Linked DNA regions of Homo sapiens: all the other regions are reported to be linked to region 4. The links are microRNA targets in miRTarBase. Many come from high-throughput screens and were not tested one by one. Region 4 holds a microRNA gene; each other region holds the end of a gene's coding sequence.
Evidence for each region. The annotated mature microRNA hsa-miR-216b-3p reads ACACACUUACCCGUAGAGAUUCUA and lies in region 4 at 2,822-2,845, opposite strand. An mRNA with a match to its seed (bases 2 to 7 or 8) in the 3' UTR can be bound and repressed. Matches are read on the target gene's strand: a 7mer-m8 pairs with bases 2 to 8, a 7mer-A1 pairs with bases 2 to 7 and ends in A, and an 8mer does both.

Region 1 (5,048 bases), not on the chromosome of region 4:
AGACCCAGTCCACATCCCTCCCCTTCCTCTTCCTAGATCTTGCAAGATGGTTCCCTTGTTTACAACTCCACTGGATGATCCCTTTTATAGCCAGCAGCTCCCTAGATGCAACTGGTGACTGGATGTGAAGATGGCTACCACCATAGACTGTAAGAGCCTCTTCCCTGAAAGTGTCTTCCTTCACCAGGGCCTGCCAGTAGAGAAATGCAGGGGGCTTTGAACCTCAGCTCCAAACTCTAAAATGCCTTGCCAGCAACGTGATTGGAGCATACTGCTAAGTGGGAATCAAAGAAGCTGGAATTTCACACTGATTGCAGGAAGAGTGGCGGAGAAGGTTCTGTCTCAGATCAGGAGTGGATGGTTGGGCTAGGTTTCTAGCAGCCTTTAAGCTCCCTCCCTTAGAAGCTTTTGTTGTCTCTCAAGGAGAGACACCTCTGCCCAGCCCTACCGTTCCTGAGTCGTCTTTCATCTGGGGGAGAAAAAAAGATGTGAAAGATGGAACCTGCTGTTCTGTTTCAGCACAGCAGGCCATGAAGACAGAAGGATTCGGTGTGGATTCTTCCTCCCAGCAAAGGGTGGTCCCAGGAATCCAAGGCCCTTGAGAGGTGGGCCACCCTCGTTCCTCTCTGAGTAGGGGAGGGGGCTTCTGTTCTCAGATGTTGTTTGAAAATCTCCGAGTAATCTTAGAAGAAGACAGATGTGAGGTGCAAGCAATCCTTTCCTCAGGGGTGTCTTCGCCACTCATGGATAAGGTCGTGGCTTAGCCCTCAGAATTGAATCCAGGCTGACAGGCAGTTGACACATTTCCAGGGTGTGGAATTTGGGCACCAGGTTTCAGCCACAATTCTGCTAGGCCTGGGTGTTTCTGCTCCATAACTCCAGGAACTGGGAACCCTGCCAGTTGTTTGTTGCCTGAAGTTCATCCCACCACACTAGAGAGCAGGACGGGATTCTTCTGAGCAGCAAGATGGACCCAATCATTGCAGAACATTCTATGGGATTCCAAAGGGAAGGCTTCGGGGAGTTGCTGTCATGTGCGGGCCACCAGCATTTTTAGAGTGAGAATGAGAGGAGATGGTCTGGATCTGCGAGATGACTCGACTCTACGGTCTGTGCATGATCATGGGGGAGGTACCAGGAGCAGGCAGCTGGGGATGGTCCCCATGTGGCTCCCAGGAACATGCTCTCATTTTGGAGAGCAGACCAGGTTTTTTGTGAATAATTCAGTATTATAAAAGTAGGAGGCAGTTTCTCCCACCAGTTCAATACCAGCTGAGAGCATACTTGTTTCTCACGGGTTAGTATCTCTCAGCAATGGGGGACTGTTGCATTATTATCATGTGCAGAATGTCCAAGGTGCTTCCTCGTGGGGTATCTGGAGAGAGACCAATTCACATCCTGTGCTTTGGGGGCAGGTGTCAGAAAAGGTGCAGGTCATAAGCCTGGGCCCAAGGGAATGTCACAGATGGGGGAGGTTCCTTTATCCAACAGAGAACAGGGAGATGACCTCCAGGGTAGCTACCCAGGCCAGGGAGGCACTCCTGAGACAGTCTCTGAGCTGGCATCAAACACCTACTTCAAAATGACCGATGTGGCATAAACCCAACCTAAGGGGTCATGACATACAGCAGATTGAGCTTTTAGACGTTTCCTGCCTCAGTCCATTAGGGCTCTCTATTTAGAGTTGCCAGTCATGTGAGCTGATGTGCACTCTGGCCTTGGAATTTCAGATAAACCATGTGTATTGCAGCAATGTTGGCAGGTGAGTGGGAGGGAGACCAAGTTGCCTTTACAGGATGTCTCGGGTCCTCCACACTCGCAAACTGACTGCAGGGTCCGCACCTCCATACATGCTCCAGCTCATTTGGTCTCACCGGGGCAGGGCTTATCTGGCCCCAGGTCCCCTTGGAAGTCATGTAGGCTGACTCGGTTTCTCTGGGGTGGGGGGGCGCTGTGTGTGAGTGATCTCAGCCTTCCTTAAAGGCCATGAACAATCTTCCTTTTTGCTACGAGGGGAAGGCACAGTATAAACCTTCCAGATGATTCTCCAGAGATGTCCTCGAGCCTAGGAGATGCTCCATGCTCACCTGGGCAGTTCTCATTTTAAGCCACTGAGTTGAAGCAGTTCCAGGACAAGCCCATGGCTTACCATCTAACCGTCACCTTCCACCTGCTTTTCTCCTCAGGTTCTGCTGTGTCTCTGCCTCAGATTAAGGCGAAACACACAAACTTACTCTTGCATAGTCCATTTCACGACATCCTTCCTAGTTAGTTTACCCTAGAAATGCAAACTGCCACAACTTTGCTGAGCATCTGAGGACGGCTATTGCTCTGTGAGGTGCTCTGATGTGAGCTCACTGGAGGAGGAGCCCTGGGGGCTGCCCAGCTGCTGGTCCCCATCCTCCTCTCCACCTGCCAAGGTCCCTGTACTCTGAGAGCCACCTGACATGGGAGGAACAGAGGACTCTGTCTTAGGGGATGCAGAGTTCTGTTATCAAGGACAATGTCGGGGGCAGACGGGATGGAAAATGTTTTTAGTGGAGAGACACATGATCTGTTAAGTGTCCACACTGGGTCCAACTTCATAGTCATGGAGCCTGGTTTGAAAACCCTGGAACCTTCTGCAGTGGTTCCCTGACCCAAGTCTCTCATGACTGTAGGGCCAATGCTACTTTGGACACGCTGGATGACGCCGGGTTACTAGGTTGCTGCTGATGGCTGGGCCAGATGTCTGAGTCCCCCCACTCCAAGCCTGGCGAGGGCCTAGGTGGCCTCAGGCTATGGAGGGCACTGGTCCTTCCTGAAGCCAGCCATGGGGGAGGTAGGGGAAGTTCTCTGAACTCAAGTTGCACATCACTAATGGCTCCTTGCCAAAGCCACAGGAATATCCCTCTGGAAAAGTGAGCTGTGACAGTGCCAGGTGTCTAATGACTGTTGGTGGAAAATGCAGTGAAAGGAACCATGCCCCCCCCCCCCCCCCCCCCCGCAAAGCCAGCCATCCCTAGGTTAGGCCAGGTAATAACCTTAAAAAGCAAAAGGAGAGGCTAATAGTCATTCTAGTCCCCACGTGGGAAAGAGTGGAGAGGCTGGCTCTGCATGAACCTTCCTATATAGGGGATCACCTTTGCCTCTCAACCATGGCGCACCCAGCCTGACCTGGTGCCCACCCTCCTGCCAGCCCTGAACTACAGAAAGGTGGAGGAACAGCCCTTGCAGCCCAGGGTAGACCCCAGAAGCAGAAGGACTGTGTGTCCCAGTCTCTCCAGCGAGGTGCTGCCTTGGTCTCTCGGGTCACGGTATCATGCGGCTCGAAGACTGATTAGTTTAATCGGGGTGTTGTGTAACTGTTGGGAATCGTGTGCTCTCAGGATCACCAGGTGGACGTGGTTGTCACGCTGAGGTGAGGGGCCAGCGGCAGTGGCTGGGGTGGACGCAGCTGGTGCCACGCACAGGGCCCGTGGCTGCGGTTTTGTCGAGGTCAGAGGTCACCGCTCTGGGGCTCCACGTTGCGGGTCTCCCGGGGCTGACCCCGGGACAGTTTGGGGAAGCGGGAAGCTGCTTTGGGCCGGCTGTTCACAGGCTCTCCGGGCGGGGTGATGTCGCTGAAAGAGCAGGGAGAGAATCGGGTTAAGTCTGGGGATGAAAAGCAAATGACCACAGGCCAGGAAGGGGAGCCAGGTGTGAGGGCAGGAGGGATCTGATTGGCAACTGTGACTGGCTCATTGGATCTGCCTCTAACTGGTGCCACCTGAAGAAATGAGAAACCCCTATTGTCACGTAAACCTTTCCATTTTTTTTTTTTTAACAGCACTCCGAGGCTCCAACCAAGCTTGGCTGTGAGTCTGAGCTAGCTCATGGTACCACCGTTCCGGTCTACATTTTAAGGCTATGAAAGAATGTTCTAGGCACAGCTTTCTTCCCCACATTTTCCTTGATTTTCCAGCAAAGGTACGCTTCTAAGTCCAAGGCAACTTTGGAGAACACTACATAAAGCCACACAAGATGCGTAGCAAAACACAGGAGACGGACTTCCTGTGGAATTAATCCTAAGAAAATAATCAGGCCCTAGGCTAGGGGCTAGTTAAAAGGTTGTTTGGCATGGTATTGTGTTTAAGAGCCAGGAACAGTGGAAGATAACACCAAGAGGGGGACACTGATCCTGGTTCTGAAGCAACGCGAACACACAGCGTGTGTGGGTCCCAGGGCATGGGTCTGGGTTGTGTGGGAGGCCCTCGGCACATTTTTTAGGGGATAGGGTAGAGGCTGGGAGGCTTCACCGTGAGAGCAGAGGGTGCTCAGCAGGAAGTCCTGTGATGTGGTTGCATTTTTTCAAAATTGTATTTTCTGGAGACAGTCTCGACTCTTGCCCAGGTTTTACAGTGCAATCGTGTAATGATAACTTGCTGCAGCCTCGATCTCCTGGGCTCAAGTGATCCTCTCACCTCAGCCTCCTGAGCAGCTGGGACTATAGGTACTAGCCACCATACCTGAGTGTAATTTTTTGTAGAGATGGGGTCTTGCTCTTGTCCAGGCTGGTCTCAAGTGATCCTCTTGCTCAGCCTCCTAAAGTGCTGGGATTACAGGTGTGAGCCACTGTGCCTGGCCAATCCTTAATCACATCTGTAAAGTCCCTTTTGCTAGATAAGGGGACACATAAATTCTGGGGCTAGGAATGTTCTTACTCTGCCTACTATACGCTATTTGAATAGGAAGTAAATACCTCACTGGGATAAAATGTTTTAAAACAAGGCAAAAACCTAACAGGATCCATGTCCACTCCTGCGTCCGCAGCACCTCTGTGCTGCTGTGGCTTGCTGGATGTAAGTCCTGGATCCACTGGACCCTACAAGGGAAGACAGGACTGTGTCCACAGCTAGCTCTGCCTTATCTGTGGTTTAGAAAGGACCAAAGATGCCAAGTGAGAATGTCAGATCAGGAACATCCACCCCCAGCTGTATCCAAGCCCAGTTTCACAAATCATGTGAGTTAAGAGACTTGCATTCATAAAGAAATCATTCCCCTCGAGGATCCCTGCAGGGTTCCCTGAA
Region 2 (5,048 bases), not on the chromosome of region 4:
ACCCCTATTGAGAATGCTTGACCTAGATTAATTTAGGTTCACTCCTGGAACTATGAATGTCAGCTTTCCTTGAAGCTGATGTCTGTGTGAAGGAGGTATGGATATAGAGCAAAAATATGGGTTCTACTTGTATGAAAGAAGTAAAGAGTGTGTAGATTCTGGGTAGGCAAGCAGTGGTGGCCACTATTCAAGCTGAGAGAGAAAACAAATAATTTGTTCAAGTACTGATAAGTGGTAAAAATCAGTTCAGACCAGGATGTCTGATTTCATCTGCAGTGCGCTATTCACTATAATTTAGTTGTCCATTTTTAGCTTGCCTTGGTGGTAACTTAAAAATGGAGAGACTCTTGGGCATTTTAGAGTCAGACTGTCATGGGTTCTGTATTTACTGGTTGTGTAAACAAGTCATTTGAGCTATCTTAACTTTATATTCTTCATCTTTTTTTAAAAAAGAATTCCTTTACTATCAAGATGCTAGGGTTTAAAAGGTGGATTAAATAAACTAAAACATGTAAAACAACAAGACAATGTCTTTGTAAGTGTTAGTTCCCTTTCACTATTTCATTTTTCTTTCTGAAAAATATTAAGGGAAGGCTTTTGGATTCATGGTCTAAGAAATATGTGAGTAGAATTTATAAAATTGTTAATTAAAAATTCATCTATTCCCTTTCAAAAGTTTTGTATTTTTTACAGAATGGACACTATAGTTAGCATACTTAGGAGCTATCATGTCCACAAACCTTATTCAGATATGGTGACAACTCTATATTATATATAAAGATTCAAGGAAAAGTATATTTTAAAGGGTTTATTTATGTGTGCTGGTTGCAGAAAAGCTGAACGTTAGGTTAAGTACAAAGAATTTGTAGATTGCCTTCAGTTATATGATCAGAAGAGTCTGAAAATAATGAAAATTAAAGGTCAGATGTTTATGAATGTTCATCTATGCTTTATTTTCTAGGATAAATCTATAAGCACAAGTTTACCTGTCCTAGATTTAATAGATGCCATTGCACCAAATGCAGTTCGTCAAGAAATGATCAGGAGAGAAAACTTATCTGATGAGGACAAGCTGAACAATGCTAAGTAAGCCTTTATGGTTTATATTACAATACATGGCCCTTTAATTCTCTAAAATCCTTATAGGAAAAGTTACTATGCCCTTAAAATTCATATTTTTAAATATAACTTATATGTGAGTCTTAGATTTAAGACTCACAAACTTAACCTTTTCGTAAAACTAATCTTGTCAAAATATTTCACTCTTTTGTTAAAATATGTTAAGTGAAAACACAGTGGATAACACCAAGATATTTTTCTTGTCTCTTCAAGATACGCCATTTCAGTTGCTCGAAAGATCGGTGCCCGGATATATGCATTACCTGATGACCTCGTAGAAGTGAAACCAAAGATGGTTATGACGGTGTTTGCATGCTTAATGGGAAAAGGACTGAACAGAATAAAATAATCATTTCATATGATTTTCTGCCACATTAAACATATTGTATGCCTCACAGTTTACAGGATTCTGAAATGTAGTGGGTGTAAAACCAGAGATTATTTGTATGCTCAAAATAGTTATATATTCATTAATGAATTCAATATCCTGTTCATACTAGTTAGAGCTGGTCAGCCTTTTTGGGTAACACAGTTAATTTACCAACTGATACAGATAATAGAATATATTCATAATCAAGCTGATACTTCATGATTAAATTATTTTTGTTGCTTAAAAGTCGTATTAGACAAGACTAAATCATTCTTTTTTATGGTTCAAAAAAGATGAATACAAACGTTTTTGCAGGTTCTGCTGTGAAATGTGGTTTGATTTTTTTGGTGTGTTAATTTTGATCATAAATGCATTCATACTCATAATCCAGTTTAATCCTTTTATTTGCTTCCTCCAACTATTTAAAGTGGTCCAAAAACACTTTTCTGTAAGTTTCTATACTGTCTAAAACCTTATGGTGACCAGAATTGTTTATTAATATCAAACTTTTTTATATATGAGAACTAATTCTTGAATAAACCCCAAAGTTCACTCTCTTGTTTAAGTAGCAGCAGCTTTTTACTTAAAATTTAATTTTAACTACATTGATACTTTACACATCCTAGTTTGGTAACACAGCTTTAACTATGTCATGCAACATATATATGTTGGTAGGATGTTATTAGAGAGATATGTGTGCATATATATTTTTTTGCACCTGAATCACCCAGCTTTTCATAAGTGGTATGTTTAATTGGTCATTCAGCCAACCATCAGTATTTTCCCCCCACAACATGTGTAACACTTTTCAGTCTGTGGATATCTGATACATTAAGATTTCTTTTTATAAGTATTCATTTTGAATGTGCATATAGTTATTTGACCCCTTCCAAATACTTGTAGCCAAACATTGGCTAGAACATCCCAAGATATGCTGACACTGTCCTGTTAGCTTCATATTATACTTGCTAGTTTAGGTCTCTATAGAAGCCCTATATAATTTAGAATATGCCCACTGAATATCTTTAATAGAAAGTAACATAAAGCTAGTATTCAATGTAGAGTATTTTCATATGTTTTTCACAGCCCGTTACAAATTGGCAATGTTTGGTTAATGTTTGTATTACTTGGAAATCGCTACAGCTTGGACTATTTTTTTCTAAATTTTTAGCATTAGTCCATTTCTGCTGCTAACAATTGAATCCAGAAATCTACTTTCTCCATCTTCCACTGTTAGTGCCAGTGAGCAATACTGTTGTGCAACAAAAATGTCACTTTATCTCAGTGTGAATGAGTAGTCTAAATTCCCTTTCTACCATTGATTTAAATATATATATTGGTAAGAGAGACTGCCCATGTGTTTAGAATAGAATTTTTTAAATGAAATGATCAACAGGTGGAATTTGAAATATATTCTTCTACAAAAGAGATTTCTTTCCCTTTTATATTTTGATGATTGTTTTCTTAAGATTAAGATATGTTCTTGCTCTTTTATAAGATTATTTAAATTATGTTTCCCTCTGATTTTTTTTCACCATTGTATTTACTAAGTTATTGGATTTACATGAAATCTGGCACTTTAGGGTGTTCTTTTTCTCACAGAGTATATTTAATAAAAATGCTGTGTATATAGAAATGTGTTTATATTTATTTCATTTGAAGAAAAATATTCAGCCTTGAAAATTAGTCTAGCATAAGCTTATTTTCCAGAAAAGAAAAGAATTCCTAAATGAGTTAGTAAAACAAAAAAAAAATTGTGTCTGATTTCTTTGAAGATGAGGGTAGTTCTTTTGTTCTTAAATATGAAGAATTATTAAAAACCAACTGTGTGATTACTACAATTTAGTTTGTGCTGAAATAATTCAGGTGAATCAATCCATTCACAAATTTATCATTTATTATGATCCAGATACTATGCTAGACACTGGGGATTCATCTGAAAAAAATACAGATGAAGTCTCCTGACCTCATGTATCACATCCATGTATGATATCCTAGTAGAGAGACAATTCGTAAATAGGAATTTTAGACAGTGATAATGCAGTAGAAGAAATAACATAAGGTAATGTGATAGAGACTGACTTGGGAAATGGAGTGGAGATTATTTGTATTTGGGTGGTCAGGGAAGGTCTCTCTAAGGATATTTGTGCTATAAGTGTTCAGCAGAGAGAACAAATGTAAAGAACCTGAAGCAGGCAGTCCTGTAGGCATCCTAGAAGACAAACAGGTGAACATGACCTGAGAGTACTGAGGGAGAGGCAGAGTCTGGAGATGGAGATGGAGTCTAGGGTATTGTAGGACTAGATCTAAATCTGGATTTTTTTTTTTCTTCTCTGACTGGAGTCATGACTGCTCTTTTGTATATGTGGTTTGGGTAAGCTGCTTGAAGTAATATGCTGCTTCTGAATCTTGGATGCTACTGTTCATCATAACTCTGCCACTGGTCTCTGTATCACCTGTGTAGAAAAAACTGATGATAGGCTGCATAGATTATGTTAAAATACCCCAATTTATGCTGGATAAATAGTGTACCAGGCCAGGCACAGTAGCTCATGCCTATAATCTCAGCACTTCGGGAGGCCAAGGTGGGAGGACTGCTTGAGGCCAGGAGTTTGAGACCAACCTGGGCAACATAGACTCTTGCTACAAAATTTTATTTATTTATTGAGACGGAGTCTCTCTCTCTTGTCCAGGCTGGAGTGCAGTGGCACAATCTCGGCTCACTGCAACCTCTGCCTCCTGGGTTCAAGTGATTCTTGTGCCTCATCCTCCTGAGTAGCTGGGATTACAGATGTGTGTCACCATGCCTGGCTAATTTTTTTTTGTGTTTTTAGTAGAGACAGGGTTTCACCATGTTGGCCAGGCTGGTCTTGAACTCCTGACCTCAAGTGGTCTGCCCGCCTCGGCCTCCCAAGGTGCTAGGATTACAGGCATGAGCCACTGGGCCCAGTCCTCAATTTTTTTTTTTAATTAGATGGGTGTGGTGGTGTGCACCTGTAGTCCTAGCTACTCAGGAGGCTGAGGTGGGAGGATTGTTTGAGCCTGGGATTTCGACACTATGATGAGCTATGATTGCACCATTGCACTCCAGCCTGGGTGACACAGCAAGATGCTGTCTCTTAAAAACAACAAAAAGTGTATCAGAGAGGTAAGAGAGGATTTCTGCAGCTGAGATGATCCAAAAAGACTTGTGAAGAACAGGGTGCAGTTGCAACACTGGCTTAGTTTGAAGTAGGAACAGCACCCCCACCCCCAGCACTTTGAAAGGCCTCCTAGAATTATCTACCAAAGTAAGTTGGGATTCCCCAGTCTTAGAAATTAATCCAGCCCCTATGGGAGTCCTCTGGATAAAGAATCATCTAGGTCCAGCAACTTGCAAATGCCTCGGATTAAAGTGAAGCTATATCTACATCGCGCTCTATCTCGCTTGCTCTCCTGCTATATCACATGTGCGACATAGTTCTGAGCCATCTAAATTTTTTCCCTCAAACACGAAGTTTTGGGTACATCAGGGTTAGTGTTTTTCTGCTACTAACTAAAAATTGTGCTGCACTACAGA
Region 3 (3,000 bases), not on the chromosome of region 4:
ACAGAATTAAATAGCATCATCTCATTTAAGAAAACACTGTATACAAGAACAAACACTAGACTACCAGTGCTCATATACGTAATTAATGAATACTAAAACAAACTAGTTTTTGTTTTTGTTTTTGAGCCAGGGTCTCACTCTGTTGCCCAGGCTGGAATGCAGTAGCATGTTCATGGCTCACTGCAGCCTCGACCTCCCAGGCTCAAGTGATCCTCCTACCTCAGCCTCCTGAGTAGCTAGGACCACAGGCACATGCCACCAGGCCCGGCTAATTTTTTTTTATTTTTTGTAGATAGAGTCTTGCTATGTTGCCCAGGCTGGTCTGGAACTCCTGGGCTCAAGAGATCCTCCACTATGGCCTCCCAAAGTGCTGGGATTATAGGCATGAGCCATCACGCCCAGCCAAATCTTTTTACGTGAAACACCATGGGGCCCCAAAATTAACCTAATTAATGAAGACAGGAGAAGAGGTAAGTCAAGGAATACACACAAAAAACAAGGAATGACAAGAAAGCAAATAGATCAGAGAATTGAGAGAGGAAACATAGTCTCAGCAGCCATTAGTGGAGACTGAGTGTAGCTGCTCAGAACCGAATGCTGCTTTAAGATTAAGGAAAGTTGAGAACTAAGAAAAGATTTAAATTGGACTGTGGCATTAGCATTAACTATTTTAAGCACTTGGCCAAGCTCGGTGGCTCACACCTGTAATCCCAGCACTTTGGGAGGCCAAGGCCAGCAGATCACTTGAGGCCAGGAGTTCGAGACCAGCCTGGCCAACACAATGAAACCCCGTCTCTACTAAAAATACAAAAAATTAGCTGAGCGTGGTGGCACATGCCTATAGTCCCAGCTGCTTGTGAGGTGGAGGTTGCCGTGAGCCAAGATCGTGCCACTGCACTCCAGCCTGGGCAACAGAGTGAGATTCTGTCTCAAAAAAAAAAAAAGCACCTGCTTTGAGGTAACTTTGATTACAGCTGAAATACAGGGAATTTTACTAAAGGACAAATACCTTCCCTCCCAGTAGCTTGTTTCAGATTCTGGCACACTGGTAAATAAAAACTAGAATCTTGCAGGCTAACCTTGCACATATGTATGTAAGACAGTCAGAATTCCAGCCAGGCTTTCTCAAAACTAGGGCAGAATTTTTTTTAACTTGTACTTAACTCTCTTCTCCCAGGTTATGTTAAAATATGCCTTGGGTCAGGATGATAGATGCCTGTTTTTTTCTGGAGATTCTTAGACATTCAGTCACTCAATATCAAACTGACAATTAATAAAATGGTTGTCATTTCCTCTTCCTTCTCTGCCATAATCTACCATCAGCATATGACCATAGAAAGATGACAAATTTTTAGATAACCTAACCAACCCATATATGATTAAACTGACCTTTCCTTACTAAAATAAAATACACTTACTCCATGTCTTCACTGCTTTTATCCCCTCTAATGTGAAAATAGCCTCAAAATGATCTTCTAAGACACAAAAGAGGACTTAAACAGTGTCATTTGTCACTTGCTTTATGCAAACATTCGAGTGTACCTCTTTCACCACAGGGCTAGAGATGGTCTACTCTGTACATACATTTCACAACAAAGAAAAATTCTGTCATTCCCCAACTCTATGACCAAGGAAAACTTTTAGGATTTCTTTAATTTGTAGCAGAGACACAGTGGCCTAGCCAATCGGCAGTGCTATACACACAGTATGCCAGTTTCCCACCCCTACCCTCTTTCTCCTTTTTTAAAGCTTCAAAGGTTAGATCAATAAAATTTAAAATTTCCTCATTTAAGGAGAAATATAATGACCCACATGTTAATTTATATTAAAAACTAAAAATAAATAATGGGGTTCTTAAACAAGGACATCTTTAACTAGGTTATGATTAGACCAGCCTGTGGGTGAAATGAGAGATTATCTCTTCTCCCTGGAAATGTCTTCAAGGCTCAGACAATTCAGTAGTTTTTAAAAGGCCCCAACTCACACATCTCAGGTGAAAAGTATAGGCAATGGGCAACAAACAAGACGCTAGTATGCACTTGGCTTCTGATAAATTGAAACAAAGATTTGGTGGCCCAGCCTAATAAATGACAGCACGAAACTAGAGGTTTAAAGTAAGTTTTGACATCACATATAGATCCCTCAACCCTAAGTTACTTTGGAGGGAAGCCATGAGAGGCTGGATCAGTCCTCAAGCCTCAGCTAAGGATGGATCCTATTTCTTCCCAGTGCAAAACACCAAATGTACCTATAAGGTGGAGTCGGCAAGGAGAGTTCCCCTCTTACTTTGAAGCAAGAGATGGAAAAAGTCAGAAAGATTTCTAGATAAAATTGAGAAACACAAAAGGCAAAGTAAAGTCAATTTAAACAGGCCTCACAAAAATCAGCCGGAATTCTTATTAAAAAAAACAAAACAGAACATTCATGGATGGGCAAAGAAAGGAAACAATGCAGACGCCTTTGGACTTCAAGAGAAAGCCCATCAGGAATCTCTGAGAGTGTCAGCTGAGAGAGTTCTGTCTCTCTCCATGTAGGATCCTTTCTGCATCATGTATATCCCAAAAGGAGTTCTGCGTGAAGGTCATCCATCTTCCCTACAGTTCTTAGCTGAGCACTGACACACACACATACTCCACCAATCCACCAAACTGCAGCTGTAGCTGCTTATCTGACCCACACTCCCCTGGCTCTCCACTTTTAGGCACAGTCTTTGTTCTTTATCGCCAGGCCCGATTCAGGAGCTTCACCTGTGCCAGTCTCTTAGTGATCATGGTGGCAAAAACCAGGCCAAAGAGGACGCTGCTGATTAACACGTAGTCATAGTCATCCTTCAGAACGTCAAACTGCTTGGATGGGTAGACTCGAGTTTGGTAAATGTCCAAACCATAGGCCACAACCTGGAAGGCAGATGGAATAAGAATTAGGAAAGAAACAACCAATGATCCACCAAGGGTGAAATAGGGCAGCTGTGGGCTCTACTCACCAAACAAGTGGACTCCA
Region 4 (5,048 bases):
ACATGTACCGCTGAATCTAAAATAATTTTTTAAAAAAGTAATAACAATCAAAAAGTAAACATGCATTTATCATATGACCCAACAATCACATCTCTTGACATTTATCCCAGAAAAATGAAAATTTATGCTCACACAATAATCTTAGACTATATTGTTTGTAGTAGTTTTGTTTGTAATACCAAGACACAGACACAAACTAAGTGTCCTTCAATGGGTGAATCATTAAACAAACTATGCTGCATCCATATCATGAAATACTACTCAACAGTAAAAAGGAACAAACTATTGATACATGCAACAGCTTGGATGGATGTCAAAAGAATTAAGCTGAGTAAAAAAATTCAATCTCAAAAGGTTACCTACTATATGATTAAATTTATAAACATTCTAAAAATGACAAAATTATAGAGATAGTAAACAGATTAGTGGTTGCCAGGAGTTAGGGATGGGGCATCAAGAGGGTAAAGAGATAGGTGTAACTAGAGAGGGGTAACACCGGGATATTTGTGGTGATGAAATAATTGTGTATCTTGACTATGGCAGTTGTTACACAAATCTACATGTGGCAAGTTGCACAGAACTATACACATGTACACACATGAGTGCTTGTACACTGGTGAAATCTGAATAAGATCTATGGGTTGTATAAATGTCAATTTCCTGGTTTAGATATTTTACTATAGTTATGTAAGATGTTCCGTTGGGGGAAATTGAGTGAAGGTACATAGAACCCCTGTATTATTATTTTTTAACTGCTTGTAAGTCTATACATTTTTCAAAATAAAAATTTGAAAAAACAAAAACAAACAACATAAAACCTAAGTTTCCTGACTTGTAGTTCCATGCTTGTTCCTCTGTGCTATTTTGTCTGAGATGTAGAATTATGCACATTTAGGTAATTTATTTCCTTCCAATTTATGTCTTTTTGAACTTCAATTTCTTTGTTAGGAGAAAAAAAGGACTATAAAATAGGAGTGCCAATAATACCTTCTTCACTGGGTTTGTGAGAAAACTAAGTTAAATAATATGTGTAGAGTGCTTCATGCAATAGTGACTATTGGTCGTTGTTATCAAATACTTAAAACACTCCTACTGCCTGGGAGGATGCTAAATTCCTAGCAATGTTTTTATTGTTTCCTTTAATGAAACCTCATGTTTTGAAATATTTTGTGTAACAAATTGCATATATGGTTAATAATTTTTTTCTTTTGTTACTATCAAAGGCATTTTAGACTGTTAGTTGGAGCTTCTGATTAGCAATTGCATCAATATTGAGTTGAATTAAATCCAATGAAAGCAAAGAAACCTGATATTTGGAGAGCCTTCTTATCCTCATCTAAGGAAATGTATTTCTTTCAGGTCACCTGAAGTGGTGAAGTGTCTAAAACATCTTGTTGATCTCCAGCACTGAGTTTACAGACTCTAGACATAGTTGGGCTCCACTTTTCAATGAACAAGCCAAACCTTATTATTATAATCTGAGTGAGTTGACATTTTGTGTGTGATCTAATTCAATTTTTGAATGTTACAATTTTTTCCATCACATCATGGGAAATTGGTGTGGTCCAGAAATAATCCAAATGAATTCACTAAGAATGAAACTGAAGATGAATTTTTAACATGCTACCAGAAGTTATTGATTAACAGGCATACCAATGTTTCAGATACTAACAGATACATAACATTATTATAAATATATAAAAATCAAATTATGGCTTTTATTCATTGTCATTGAAGACCAATTTCAATAATAATTTTTAATACTTTTTATTTTTTGTTTTACCTTTTAGTCATGACATTTTTATTATATTAGAGGAGAAGGGAAAATAATTTTTTTAGTATATAGAAATTGGATTGCTTACAGACAAATTAAACTTAGGAGGGAAAATTATAAAGGATGTTGAAAACTATAAATTTAAACAAACATCTCTTATTTTGACAGGATATGTTTCAGAGAGAACAAATCTTGAGTCTTTCAAATATTACTGGGCCAGACTAAAATAATTTCATTGTGAGAGCATTTTCCTTCTCTGTGTGCAGTCTAAGTGCATATTTTGTGCTCTTAGGAATAACTTTCCAAAGCTGTGCGAAGAATGTAGCAATAAAATCTAATAAGAATTATGGCTCATGACTTGAATGATGTCAGTACCCTTTTAATCCTCCCAAACATGAAAACGTTTTCTCCTCTTAAATAAGATTTCTTAACTCCTTATTTCTAAGGAAATAAGTACATCTGAGCAATTCTATTGGCAAAGTAAGAGTTAAATGAAAATGTTTCTTTCCATTATTATTAATGCTTATACTTATTAAGACCACTACTTTAGAAATGTATTCTAGACAATATTTTTATGAATACATATTATTTTGTCTGATTATTTTAGTGTTCCAGTTATAATCTTTTGCTCTCTCTAAGCCAGTGGTTCTCAAACTTGAGCATGAATCGGAATTACCTGGAAAGCTTGTTGAAACACAGATTGCAGGGCCCATTCTGAGTTTCTGATTCAGGAGGCCTCTAGTGGGGTGCAAGAATTTGCATTTCTAACAGGTTCCTAGGTGACGCTGCTGATGCTAGTCTGGGAATCAAACTTTGACAACAACTGCTTTAAGCCATGTTACAAACAACCTTCTTATTTTAAAATTTAATTTAGTGGGATTCAACCATCACGAGGCATGTAGTCACCTTGGTTTAGAAGAAGTTAAAGTTCAGTAAGTGGGCTATAGCTTGGCTTTTTGGCCATGCTAGATTTATTCCAGGCCAAAGAACTGCTTATAACAAAAGCATAGTTGATGAAATGGTTCGATGCTTGAAGATGTCAGACTGTAGAATCTCTACGGGTAAGTGTGTGATTTCCTCAGTGACATCACATTTGCCTGCAGAGATTTTCCAGTCTGCCACTTTGAAGTTGTACTTAAGATAGAAAAAAGTTGTCGTCATTCTACAGTGATCTTTCTGGTCTTGCTAAATTTTAAAACTATATTTATTCAAGATTAAAATTGATGGGAAGTAGGAGTTATAGCTGGGATTCAGATAGGTGCATAAATGAGAATGGATACTCTCTAATTTTGCCACACATCTCCATAGAGAATGAAGGAAAAGATGAAAAGTGAAGTTTCCCAAGCCACAACCAGTGGATGAGACTAGTATACCTTGGTCATGGAAGAAAGACGAGGCTTCTTATGCCATCATTCATTTTTTTTTCTCAAATTATGCTGTTTGTTTCATATGTGCTTATTTTACCAGTGTGTTAGTCACACCAAAAGCCTTATGGTCAATCCAGGTAAATATCCTTGCATTTCAAGCAATTTTATCTAACGTTAGACTTTGCAGTTGAGTTTCTTAGTCTTTTGTAATTTAGTTATGCCTAAGTAATAACAAGATTAGATGAGTAGAATGAGGAGATGTGCTTTTTACTTTTATTCTCTCCATCTTTCTTCTGCCTAATAATGGTCTTATGATAATACCATCACCTGCTGCTAATCTTTAAAGTGCTGGAATAATGCATGATATGCAATATTTACTTTAGAGCTCAAAAATCTAACTTGTGAATATTGTGATATTATTAACACTACAATGTCGGGTTTTGGGTCAATGTCAACTATAAATTTATTCCAACATTTTCCTAGAACAGGGACTTCATATATTTTGTTCTCTTCTATATCCCAGCACATGGAATAATTCCTGGCCTATAGGAGGTGCTCAGTAAACATTTATTAATGATTGGCTATTACTTAGGATGTTTTTTGCAAATACTTGTTTACCATTAGAAAGGAAATATATATATATATATTCACATATTTTATTGATATTACAGTGACATTTAATTTCAGACAAGATAAAATGAGAGAATATTTAAATATGTAAATCTTGGTAATAAAGAATCCTCCTACAATAAAATGCATTATAATACAATTTTTTGTAATACTTGGTTTAGGAGTAGATTAATAACTTCCTTAAAGTATAACAATGTTATATTATGTTTTTCAGGCATGTAGTTGAATTTCAGATGATGAGTTTTTTAGTCCGGGTTACGTCCAAATTTATGTAATAATGAATCACAAAATTAGGGTTGATTATGTTTACACTACACAACACAGTGTCTTGATTATCTGTTAATCTGCTATACACACATCCTTGGACCTCAAGATGACTTTAAAAGCGTCCTCTCAATTGCATTCTGACTTTCCTAAATAAACCATAAATAGAAACTTAACAGTAAATCTCTCATAAGTGTGCAGAGGATATAACAGGTGGCTCTGATCTGATGTAAGTGTAGCTAAAATAATGTGTTGAAATAATTGCAGCTTAGAAAGATAGAAAACATCTGGGCTTCAAGGGAGAACACTTCCATCCTTTTTGCTGCTTTTAAAAATAGAGAACTACATCATTCTGGGTTGCATAGAAAGAAGGGGCTGTGTTAGAAACTCTATGATCCTCAGTCTGTTCATCTAAAGCTCCAAAGGATGAGACTACTATACCTTGGTTGTGGAAGAAACACTAGACTTCTTAGGCCATCATTCATTTTCTTTTCTCAAATTATTATTTTTGTTTATTTGTGCTTGCAGGGCCTGATTAACAGTGTCACTTGTTCTCTTGAAGGAAAACTGAAGTTGTGAATGATGGAATTATAGTTGCCATTTCTCCAATTGTTGATATCTTGTTTGTTCCTTTGCTCCATGGGAAGGCATGGATGGAACAGAGCTTTGAGACAGAATCCTCATTTTAGTTGCCTCTATGAGTAGGCTGTTTAGAGGCTGCCAGCCTATAATATGGGGCTCTTGTTAGTTTAAGTACTTAGGTAGAAAAAGACCCTTCTATAAATGCAAATTTTTAATATCTAAGCATTATCTGCCACCAACATTAGTACAGATGAATTTATAAGATTATTTCTAGCAGACAGTAAAGACCTGAAAAAAAAATTGAACAGTACAGTTACATCTTAAAAGATCAGAGGTCAAGATCTACCCAGTGATTCTCAACGCTGGCTGTATATCAGAAACATTTTGGATTTATGGAGAAGACAGATTTCCAAGCCCCAACCAAGACCTAC
Region 5 (3,000 bases), not on the chromosome of region 4:
TGCTTTTTTTTATGGGCACCCTGCTTTTTGTGTGCGGCTCCCAGGCTACCCTTCAAGCTATTTTCCCCTGCTTCCATACCCAAGCCAAGTTCATGTACAATAGAAGATAGGATTTAGCCACCTTCCTATTTGGAGGATATTTTTGTTTTGTTTTAATGCAAGCGTCATCCTTCTATACAATGAGCCTACATAACAATCTAATATAAGGAATACAAATAATATTGCAGCAAAATTCGGCAGAGCCACAAACACAAGCTGGAGGGCTGCTGCCCATGCAGCCGCCCGGCTCAGGTGTGCGCCTCCGTGTTCGAGTCTCCTTCTCATTTCCGCGTGTCTGGAATGCCACCAGGAGCCCCAAGGCACAGCACGTGCGAGGCAGGGCTGCGGCACACACTGACCATCTGGCCTCTGAAAGGTAAGCGAGGCAGGGCTGCGGCACACACTGACCATCTGGCCTCTGGAAGGTAAGTGGGCATTTTGGTTCCCTCAGTGCAAATGTTAGACAAATTTGTTGAATGAATTAAAATCAAATTGTAGGTACTTGAGATTCTGAACTGTGGAGATTTTGAAACATTGTTTTTATTTCAACGTGCACTAAAAAAAGGACTAAGTAAAACGATGGGAGTCGAATTAAACATTCAACAAGCAACAGTACTCACTGGGCAACATTTGTGAGTCGCGCTTGAGTGCCCAGGTCACTTGTCATGGGCACAAAAGCATTTAGAGTTTCTGGAAACTGTTTGGGAGTGACCTTAACAGCCTGGGGCTGGGCCCACGAAGCACGGAAAGGCACCCCCTGAAAACACCACCATCCAGGAAGAACGGGCGCTTTGGAAGCCATTTGAGAACTGTTAATTGATTACTTTATTTCATATAAAAGTTACATTGAAAGAAGAGGTTGAAAAGTCAAGTATACTTGATTTGCACACACTTGCCAAGTCTCACAGGATTCAACCACTTGGATAATTGTTTTATTGATAACAGGATATACATATTAAAAGCCTCACACTGAAGCCCACACGCATGTCCAACCCAGACAACAATGTGCAAATGAATATGCAGAACAATCTCGGAAACTGGCGTCTCCAGGATCACCCACACTTTGTCCCTCTGGCTGTGACGCAGCTCTTCCCCCAACGGCGCACACGCTTCTGCGGTGACCAAGTCCACTTCCAAACCCCCTGCAGGTTTGCTCGCTTGGCTAGGACGGTGGCTCAGGTAGGTCCCTTTGTGGTTTTGCATCAGCAGTGGTAGAAGCCCTGATTCGGATGGGGTACAGAGTAATTAAAAACAAAAAACAGTTCACAGATGAACAGAAAGGCAAAACAATTCCCAGGAGGGAGACGCCAACTTCTCTTAGTGTGGAGGGCAAGCATAAAGGAAGACCCTCAGACTTTGTCACAGATTGCTTCTTGATGCGTCCGGCAAAAAATGTACAAACCAGGCAAGTTTAAGGCAAGGCCCCACGAGGGGAGCTGTTGGCTTTCTGGCATAATTTTAAGCTCCGCACCAAGGATCCTATTTTATCACCTGTGCCGTGGGTGGAGAAGAAAACGTAAAAGCTAACCAAAAACTCCAACAAGAGGGCGCCATCCTGGCCATTCCCGACTGGAGCGCTGCCTGCGGTGGCACAGTCGCCCCTGCCAGGGGCTGGCTGCCTCATGGTCCCCTCCCCTTCCCAGAGGTGCCCAATGGCTGGGCCCTGCCTCTCCAGTAAGGATGCCTCCCCTGCCCCACACACAGCATCGGGCTGCCCCAAGTATCAAGTCACCGAGCCGCAGCTCTGCTCTTACCTAGGTGCCATTTATACACTGCTAATTTGGCTGGAACAAAAAAAAAAAATCAGTTCCAAGGCCCTCAAGCACTCAAGATTTCTTTAAAAAATGAAAGCAGGAGGGCAACGAAGGGCCGCACAGGAACGGCTGTTCTTTGGATCGAGATGTCCTCCAACAGCAATACATTCATAGTAACCACGGGCAGGACCCCGCGGCTCTCTCCCCTCTTCCCTGAAACGTCGGTTTCTAAAAAATAGCTTGTTTGCTGTACACAGCCGGTAAATGTTACATTGCCTAAACAACACTGGCAATTTTGACACACATGCACACACGCGCGCACACGCACAGACACGCACACACACAGACTTGCTGAGAGGGTCAAAGGATGTCTCTTCCGGGGCAGCGGGGAGTGTGCCGGAAGCCACCTTCACTGTTCAGTGCACAGATCTTTTGCAACTTCAGTGCAAAGCATCGGAGCTAATCGAGACCAAAACGTCTTTCTATGTAAACGCCCTGCTGTGATCCGGGGAGTGCACTGCTGAGTGGCGGGGTCAGCAGGAGCCCCCTGAAATGACTGCTTGGAGAATCCCTGTTCACTGGATTCACTGTTTTTCTTCATGATTGGAAACAGCAGCTCAGGACCCAGGATTTGAATAACCCATGTAATAACCCGAAGTATTCTCCACAGAAGCCCCAGCTCTGCAGGAGGCCACGGCGTTTGGCTTCTTCGTGTGGCCACACACCTTTCCGTTGTTGTACAGGTGGGGACTGAGAGCCTCTTCCTCTGCCATCTGTGACTATAAATATATAAAACTCTGCTTGCTGCAAGCAATTGGTTTGTGTAGGTTCCAGTTGCCCTGTTGGTCACAGATGAGCTGTTGATATCCTTCAGACCCCAAATAAATAACTGGAAGTCTGTGAGCAAGTTTCAGTCTGATGAGCCACGCCTCACACTGAGAACTCCGGGCCACCTTTTCTGGGTCTCGTGGGCAGTCGCCTAAATCGGAAGCCCACAAAGGGATTCATCCAGAGGAGTGAGGGGGGCCCCCCAAAGACGGACTTCATCCCTTCCCATCGCAGCCTCCGCTCCCATGTGGGCTTCTCACTTTTCAATCGCTCGATCTCCTGGAAGCAGAAAGAAAAGCAAGTGGCAGCGGCTCCAGGAAGCTCGGCAGACCCCACCAAGCCTCAGAATCACACCGTGCTCAAGCACAGTGTGGGCTCG

Region 1: miRTarBase lists SNX29 as a target of hsa-miR-216b-3p. Seed matches in the 3' UTR shown: 7mer-A1 at 303-309.
Region 2: the mRNA of PLS1 is a reported target of hsa-miR-216b-3p. Seed matches in the 3' UTR shown: 7mer-A1 at 2,773-2,779.
Region 3: the mRNA of EMC1 is a reported target of hsa-miR-216b-3p. The part of its 3' UTR that is shown has no 7-base or 8-base seed match.
Region 5: the mRNA of ZDHHC7 is a reported target of hsa-miR-216b-3p. Seed matches in the 3' UTR shown: 7mer-m8 at 1,097-1,103, 7mer-A1 at 1,004-1,010 and 7mer-m8 at 927-933.

The regions. Positions count from the first base shown.
Region 1 is chr16:12,567,060-12,572,107 of GRCh38, reverse strand. It overlaps SNX29 (sorting nexin 29), which reads right to left. Exons shown (of 21, transcript NM_032167.5): 21 at 1-3,602. The coding sequence ends at 3,479. It overlaps SNX29-AS3 (SNX29 antisense RNA 3), which reads left to right. Exons shown (of 4, transcript XR_007064988.1): 2 at 3,809-3,948. Among named protein-coding and RNA genes, the nearest start is that of SNX29-AS3, 42 kb to the left of the region's middle.
Region 2 is chr3:142,710,540-142,715,587 of GRCh38, forward strand. PLS1 (plastin 1) reads left to right here. Exons shown (of 16, transcript NM_001145319.2): 15 at 962-1,086; 16 at 1,333-3,125. The coding sequence ends at 1,468. Among named protein-coding and RNA genes, the nearest start is that of TRPC1, 11 kb to the right of the region's middle.
Region 3 is chr1:19,216,586-19,219,585 of GRCh38, forward strand. It overlaps EMC1 (ER membrane protein complex subunit 1), which reads right to left. Exons shown (of 23, transcript NM_015047.3): 22 at 2,984-3,000; 23 at 1-2,897. The coding sequence ends at 2,718. All of the region lies in intron 1 of EMC1-AS1 (EMC1 antisense RNA 1), which reads left to right. Among named protein-coding and RNA genes, the nearest start is that of EMC1-AS1, 7.7 kb to the left of the region's middle.
Region 4 is chr2:55,997,903-56,002,950 of GRCh38, forward strand. MIR216B (microRNA 216b) reads right to left here and starts at 2,893; the gene lies at 2,812-2,893. All of the region lies in intron 2 of MIR217HG (MIR217 host gene), which reads right to left. The region is part of intron 3 of LOC105374690 (a long non-coding RNA gene); the gene reads left to right.
Region 5 is chr16:84,973,620-84,976,619 of GRCh38, forward strand. It overlaps ZDHHC7 (zDHHC palmitoyltransferase 7), which reads right to left. Exons shown (of 8, transcript NM_017740.3): 8 at 556-2,900. The coding sequence ends at 2,724. Among named protein-coding and RNA genes, the nearest start is that of ZDHHC7, 36 kb to the right of the region's middle. RefSeq lists an enhancer at 2,712-3,000.